Linked DNA regions of Homo sapiens. The protein of the gene in region 1 purifies or fractionates together with the protein of each later gene. This does not show direct contact. Each region holds a gene or a part of one and is shown on either strand. Other genes may lie near its edges. The genes, in order: ARMH3 and ATP6V1D.

Evidence for each region.
Region 2: the proteins of ARMH3 (region 1) and ATP6V1D fractionate together in Homo sapiens (co-fractionation; one large-scale study listed by BioGRID). This does not show direct contact.

Annotation. Positions count from the first base shown.
Region 1 is NC_000010.11:101,989,992-101,993,809, reverse strand, and holds part of ARMH3 (armadillo-like helical domain-containing protein 3), read left to right. Parts: intron 1-206; coding exon 207-272; intron 273-1,771; coding exon 1,772-1,841; intron 1,842-3,198; coding exon 3,199-3,259; intron 3,260-3,818. UniProt on the Homo sapiens protein: Involved in GBF1 recruitment, Golgi maintenance and protein secretion.
Region 2 is NC_000014.9:67,346,217-67,350,034, forward strand, and holds part of ATP6V1D (V-type proton ATPase subunit D), read right to left. Parts: intron 2,889-3,818; coding exon 2,821-2,888; intron 1,238-2,820; coding exon 1,193-1,237; intron 1-1,192. UniProt on the Homo sapiens protein: Subunit of the V1 complex of vacuolar(H+)-ATPase (V-ATPase), a multisubunit enzyme composed of a peripheral complex (V1) that hydrolyzes ATP and a membrane integral complex (V0) that translocates protons.

The DNA.
Region 1 (3,818 bases):
AGTTAGAGATACACTGGGAAATTACACTAAAGAAAAATCTCATGGCTTAAGTAGGGTTTGACATAAGGCTCTAGGCTCATCCTATTAGCTGTCCAGCTGATCCTTGAAAGTAGTTCTCAAAGTCCAAGGATTTGTACGAAGTGTGATAGATTACAGTTTCTTAAATATAGCTCTCGCTTCTTACTTTTTCTCTATATTTTTATTAGGATCAATATGCCAATGCATTTTTGCATGATGACAACATGAATTTTCGAGTAAACTTACATAGAATGGTAGGTGTTTCTTTTGCTTCTTGTTTTTTCTTAGAGGAAATTTTTTGTATGTCGGCAGGGTTGGGATGAAATTGATCTTACTAGAACAAATGTGGGTGGAAAGTTGTGCCAAAGGGCTTTGCATGACGGCTGTTCAACAGACCCATGCTTGTTGTTGGGATTTTTGTGTGTCATGGAGCTGTTTCTTAATCAAGAGTTTTGGAAGATTCACAAGCGTGGCAATGATACTGGATTTCTTTTTTTTTTTTTTTCTTTTTTTGAGGGAGAGTCTCTCTCTCTCTCTCTCCCCCCCAGGCTGGAGTGCAATGGTGTGATCTCTGCTCACTGCAACCTCTGCCTCTTGGGCTCAAGCAGTTCTTCTGCCTCAGCCTCCTGAGTAGCTGGGATTACAGGTGGCTGCCACCACGCTCGGCTAATTTTTGTATTTTCGTTACAGATGGGGTTTCACCACGTTGGCCAGGCTGGTCTCCAGCTCCTGACCTCAGATGATCTGCCCGCCTTGGCCTGCCAAAGTGCTGAGATTACAGGTGTGAGCCACCGCGCCTGGCCTGATACTGGATTTCAATAATATAGGTTTCAGCAAGGAAATGGTTCTAAGCCTTTTGTTTTCAAAATGTAGTATAATTTTTGAGTGGCTAAGACTAGCTGCTGCTCAGATTTGTTCATCTGAGAAGTGGGCAAATAGAATATGGAGGATCAGGGAATTTCTTAAAGCTTGGAGGTATGTTAAAAAATATCACATTGAGGGCCGGGCTTGGTGGCTCATACCTGTAATCCCAACACTTTGGGAGGCCAAGGCGGGATCACAAGGTCAGGAGATTGAGACCACCCTGGCTAACAGGATGAAACCCCGTTTCTACTAAAAGTACAAAAAATTAGCCGGGTGTGGTGGCAGGCACCTGTAGTCCCAGCTACTCAAGAGGCTGAGTCAGGAGAATGGCGCGAATCCAGGAGACAGAGCTTGCAGTGAGCCGAGATCGTGCCACTTCACTCCAGCCTGGGCAACAGAGCGAGACTCCGTCTCAAAAAAAAAAAAAAAATTACATTGAGGTTTAGATGTAAAACTTTCTTTATTTTTTTGCAACTACTACTGTTGCTGCTTCTATAGGTGGCACCATCACTTCCTCTTTTTTTTATTATTATTATTTATCGTCAAAGAAAAACACCAGTGTACCTCTTTTGTCGTTAGTAATGCCACTTATATAACTAAAAGCAAAGTAAAACCAACAGTTTTCCCATTGTAGTATTCTCTAGTGCCCTTTGAGGTTGTGAATTGTAATTTTGTAACAGGCGTGCATTGATAACTGAAGCATTCACAAGTCCTCCCTTCCCCGCCTCATCCCATGCTACCTCATTCCTCTCCCACCATGTGAAAAAGAGAAAGAAAAGGAAGTATCCCTGTAATAGTGATTTTATTTGCACAAGGAACATGATGATGGGCCATTGGATGTCAGTGCCGGTGTCTACTAATTTCCTTTCTTCATTTTTTTGGTGTGAAGCCTATGAGACACAGGAAGAAGGCAGCAGACAAGAATCTTCCCTGCCGTCCTTTAGTATGTGCAGTACTGGGTGAGTGAGTATCATCAACATTGACATTGTTCTGTGACAGCGATAGGCTTTCATGATGAAGATGAAGAGTAGAACCTGTTTGATGTGCTTCTTCCGCAAATAAATTATTAGTTGTGTTTTTTCCCTGGCCTAAGAATCATGTTTATTGTTGTGTTTGGTAAAGCAACCCCAGTTATAGAGTGGTCAATAAAAGGGTCCTGTTGTTCAAAGAAAAAAGTCATTCCAGTGAGACAAATGGCTGTGTCTAAACTTGATACATGATTTACAAGATACATGATCAAGATTTCAGGCTGGGCGCAGTGGCTCACACCTGTAATCACAGCACTTTGGGAGGCTGAGGTGGGCGGATCACTTGAGGTCAGGAGTTTGAGATCAGCTTGGCCAACATGGTGAAAACCTGTCTGTACTGAAAATACAAAAATTAGCTGGTCGTGTTGGCGTGCGCCTGTAATCCCAGCTACTCAGGAGGCCGAGGCAGGAGAATCGCTTGAACCCAGGAGGCAGAGGTTGCAGTGAGCCAAGATCACGGCATTGCACTCCAGCTGGGGCGAGACTGCATCTCAAAAAAAAAAAAGATTTCAAATTCTTCCCATCCTTTCTTGGTTTGAATTGATGTGCTGGCTGGCCAGGAGGCTTGAAGTTCATGGTTTACATATACAAAACTTCCCCTGAGTATATTAAACTGAGATGAGGCTGACTGAGTTGACAGGTAGGGGGCTGTATCTTGGGTAATTTTGTCTGTCCAGAATTCTGCATTTTCCTCAGGGAATTAGCTGAATTCTTAATCCCATTTCACTTGGATATTCAGCCCCAGTTTCTAAATCTACTTAATTTTAGAAACAGTAATTAAGGCTGTATAATAAGCCTCTCTTGACCCAAAGCCCCACAGCCCATTTCAGTCAATATCTGTCTAACTGAGCATGATAGTAAGATGAGATTGACTGACATAGCTTTAGAGCTGAGTCTCTGGTTACACAAATGTGATCCATAATTTCTTCTCAGAGCTTGCTTCATTGTCTAGTCTCAGAATATGATTTCCCTTTGGCAGTCTGCATTAATGCCATGGGATGAAATATCTATACAATGAAATTTTCCATTTATCTGAATTTATTGGCAGGTCAGGGTATCCTTCTGGAGGTCAGCAAGTGAAATAATTTCTTATTACTTTACAAGTGGCAGGTGGTGAACAGTGTTACACAAAATGCGTTATATAAAATAAGTGTATATGAATAAAGATGTGGTTAGTGGATGCCGTTCAGTGTGAGTGCAAGGTGTACTCAGAAGCTTTTTTTCCAACTCAAAGACAAGAAATGAATTCCATTGTAATTGATCCAGTTTTTCTCTATTCCCCTTTCAGACCTGATGGTAGAGTTTATTGTAACACACATGATGAAGGAGTTTCCTATGGATCTCTATATGTAAGTACAAATATGTACACATTTAATGTGTACAAATCTATTTTAAAGAACTGAATGTTAGAAAATTCATGGTCTGTGTAGGCCGGGCGCCATGGCTCACGCCTGTAATACCAGCACCTTGGGAGGCCGAGGCGGGCGGATCACAAGGTCAGGAGATCGAGACCACGGTGAAACCCCGTCTCTACAAAAAATACAAAAAATTATCTGGGCGCAGTGGTGGGCGCCTGTAGTCTCAGCTACTTGGGAGGCTGAGGCAGGAGTATGGCGTGAACCCAGGAGGCGGAGCTTGCAGTCAGCTGAGATTGTGCCACTGCACTCCAGCCTGGGCGACAGAGCGAAGACTCTGTCTGGGAAAAAAAAAAAAAAAAAAAGAAAGTTCATGGTCTGTGTATACTTTAAGAAAAACACATTTGCATGTGGAGAAGTGTTAGGGAACATTTTCTGGCCTGGATCTGTACATCTTTTCAGAAGAGGTAATAAGCACAAACCACAATGTGGATTCTGCACATATCCGCATGATCACTTCTAGGCACACTGCATGAAGAGGGAGCCGACACAT
Region 2 (3,818 bases), on another chromosome or scaffold:
CTACTTCTTCGTATGAAATGTACTTAATATTCTATATGATTTAATTAAATATCACATGAAGCAAGGAAATACAAGTGCCAAAAGAAAGAATATTATTTGTTTATTTATTTATTGAGATGGGGTCTCACTCTGCCACCCAGGCTGGAGTGCAGTGGTGCGATCTCAGCTCACTGTAAGCTCCACTTCTCAGGCTCAAGCAATCCTCCCACCTCGGCCTCCCGAGTAGCTGGGACCACAGGCGCATGCCACCAGGCCCAGCTAATTTTTGTAACTTTTTGGGTGGAGACGGGGTTTCACCATGTTGCCCAGGCTGGTCTCAAACTCCTGGGCTAAGGTGATCCACCTGCCTCAGCCTCCCAAAGTGCTGGGATTGCAGGTGTGAGCCACTGTGCCTGGCCAAGAATATTGTTTCTATGAAAAAAGTTAATACTTTACTTTGGAAAGAAAATATGCTGTCAAACTAGGAATGGAATGAATAAGACAGTTATTTAAAAAGTGGAAGTGGGCTATAAAAATCTAGAAAGAATCAGCATTCAGGTTGCATCAGTGTCTAAGATCTTATTTGACTTTAAAGAGACCCAAACTGGGAATTATAAGCAGTGCATTGTGGGTGTAGGATATGCAGAAAAACAACACAGAAGTCTAATCAGTGAATTCATATTCAAAAGGCCTTATATTTTTTAAATAGCAAGTGATTCTACATTGATATATTTCTGATAAAATATTGAAATATTTTAAGATATGTATAATGTTTTATGACTTCCTAGCATAAGACCTTTTTCTTTTTTGAGACAAGGTTTTGCTCTGTAGCCCAGGCTGGAGTGCAGTGGCGTGATCAGAACTCGCTGCAACTACCTCCCCAGCTCAAGCAATCCTCCCTCCTCAGCCCTGGAAGTAGCTGAAACTACAGGCACGTGCCACCACACCTGGCTGATTTTTTATATTTTTTGTAGAGATGGAGATTTGCCTGCCTCAGCCTCCCAAAGTGCCAGTATTACAGGCATGAGCCATTGTGCCCGGCCTTAAGACCTTTTGATTAACTGATCAACTATTGTCCTGACTATATCAAATAAGAGGATTTCTAACTCAGGAACCTCTCAACATCTAGCACCATTTTCCAGAACTTAGTTCATTTAAAGAGGAAACAGGAAATCCCAGAGACACAAAGTAATACAAAAAGTTTCACACTTACTGTCAGTTCCTTCATGGTAATGTTCAAATACTGGCAAAGTAACACCTGTTAAACACAGAAGCATACATGGATTCATAAACCTTTAAGTTCTCTCTTTTTTTTTTTTTTCTGAGACGGAGTTTTGCTCTTGTCGCCGAGGCTGGAATGCAATGGCGTGATCTCGCCTCACCGCAACCTCTGCCTCCCAGGTTCAAGCAATTCTCCTGGTCAGCCTCCTGAATAGGTGGGATTACAGGCATGCACCACCACACCCGGCTAATTTTGTATTTTTAGTAGACACGGGGTTTCTCCATGTTGGTAAGGTTGGTCTTGAACTTCCGACCTCAGGTGATCCACCCGCCTAAACCTCCCAAAGTGCTGGGATTACAGGTATGAGCCACCGCGCCTGGCCTAAATTCTGTTTCTTAATCACTGTTTTCTGTGTTTCTTTTTCATCAAACTCAAAAATCAAGAGCTTAAGTATGGAATTGTAATTGGTTTCAATTAATGAATTTAGGAACTTGCCTTCTTTTTTTTTTTTTGAGACAGAGTCTCACTCTGTCGCCCAGGCTGCAGTGCAGTGGTGTGGTCTTCAGCTCACTGCAACCACCGCCTCCTGGGGTCAAGTGATTCTCCCACCTCAGCCTCCTGAGTAGCTGGGACAACAGGCACATGCCATGCCCAGCTAATTTTTTTTTTTTTTTAAAGATGAGTTTCGCTCTTGTTGCCTGGGCTGGAGTACAATGGCGCAATCTCGGCTCACCACAACCTCTGCCTCCTGGGTCCAAGTGAGTCTCCTGCCTCAGCCTCTCAAGTAGCTGGGATTACAGGCATGCGCTACCACGTCTGGCTTATTTTGTATTTTTAGTAGAGACAGGATTTCTCCATATTAGGCTGGTCTCGAACTCCCGACCTCAGGCGATCCGCCCACCTTGGCTTCCCAAAGCACTGGGATTACAGGTGTGAGCCATCACACCCGGCCTAATTTTTGTATTCTTTGGTAAAGATGGGGTTTCACCATGTTGGCCAGGCTGGTCTCGAACTCCTGACCTTGTGATCCGCCCACCTCAGCCTCCCAAAGTGCTGGGATTACAGGTGTGAGCCACCACATCCAGTGGAACCTGACTTCTTTATTTTTTTATTTTTTATTTTTAGACAGAGTCTTGCTCTGTCACCCAGGCTGGAGTGCAGTGGTGCAATCTCGGCTCACTGGAACCTCCGCTTCCCGGGTTCAAGCGATTCTCCTGCCTCAGCCTCCCAAGTAGCTGGGGCTACAGGCGCGTGCCACCAAACCTGGCTAATTTTTGTATTATTAGTAGAGATGGGGTTTCACCATGTTGGCCAGGCTGGTCTCGAACTCCTGACCTTGTGATTCGCCCACCTCGGCCTCCCAAAGTGCTGGGATTACAGGCATGAGCCACCGTGCCCAGCCGGAACCTGCCTTCTTAAGTGTTCACTTCTATACAAAAGTCAAGTTATCCTGAGTAATTAGAAACCTGGTTGTTAATGATTTTAACATGTAAAGCCAATCAACTTGTTCTAAGTAGAAGGAAGAAACTAGGACATTAAGATCTTGCTGTATAAACAGGTTAATTTTAAAATGTCACCTCTTTTCTCCCCAAAGGGTTTCTAAAAGGTTGAAACGTTACCTGCTACATTATCTTTCTTCGCTCGAATCTTCACTTGCGCTTTATTGACATTTTGGATAACTGTAGTGCTGCAGAAAAAGAGAAAGACTTTATTTAGCAGACTCTTCAGAAATAAACCTACAGGGACCCACTGGATAGTTTTAACATTAAATGAGACCAAGAGTGAGATGTCACAATTAAGTATGTTTTGATAACTGTCCTTTTTCCAAAAAGGGAGAAAAGTCATTACTGCTAGAGGAGGGCCTCTGAAAGCAGAGAATGAACAATATTCAAAACATTAGCAGTAAGAAAAGAACAAAGAATGATTTTAAAGTTCGTGGATTGCTTATGTTTTCAGTCAGAGGTGTGCTACATGGATATAACTTTAAGGATTCTTCTGCTAGTGTGAGATAGAGAAAACTCCTTTCTAGGTTTGCTATTGAATTGGTTAAGCTGGCGTTCAATTCCTTTACCCTGGAAACTATGTTCCATCTGGCTTTGTGTGACTTCTCAAATGTTACCAGAAAGTGCCTTCCTGGCAGGGTGCGATAGCTCACGCCTGTAATCCTGGCACTTTGGGAGGCCGAGGCAGGAGGATTGTTTGAGGCCAGGAGTTCAAAACCAGCCTGGGCAATGTGGTGAAACTCAAAAATACAAAAATTAGCCAGTCTCATAACCCAATCTCAAAACAAAACAAAAATAAATATTATAGAAAGTATCTTCCCCATAACCACCCTAAAACACTCACATACCACTTATACACTATTGATTGATCTCCACCCTCTGCTAGAAAATTCAATGCAAGCTGTGATCTTACCAGCACTGGCAAAAATGAAAGCCTACCACTTCAAAGGGCCTTATTAAGGCCCAAGAGCAGTGAAAGCTCCTAGATAATAGGCATCATGTCATTAGGAAAATAATAAAATCAGAAACCTTGAAAACAACTTCTGCCTCTGCCCCTAATTAGCCAAGTGACCTCAGGAAGGCATTTAATTAAAACTGAGAATAACAATGCTTGC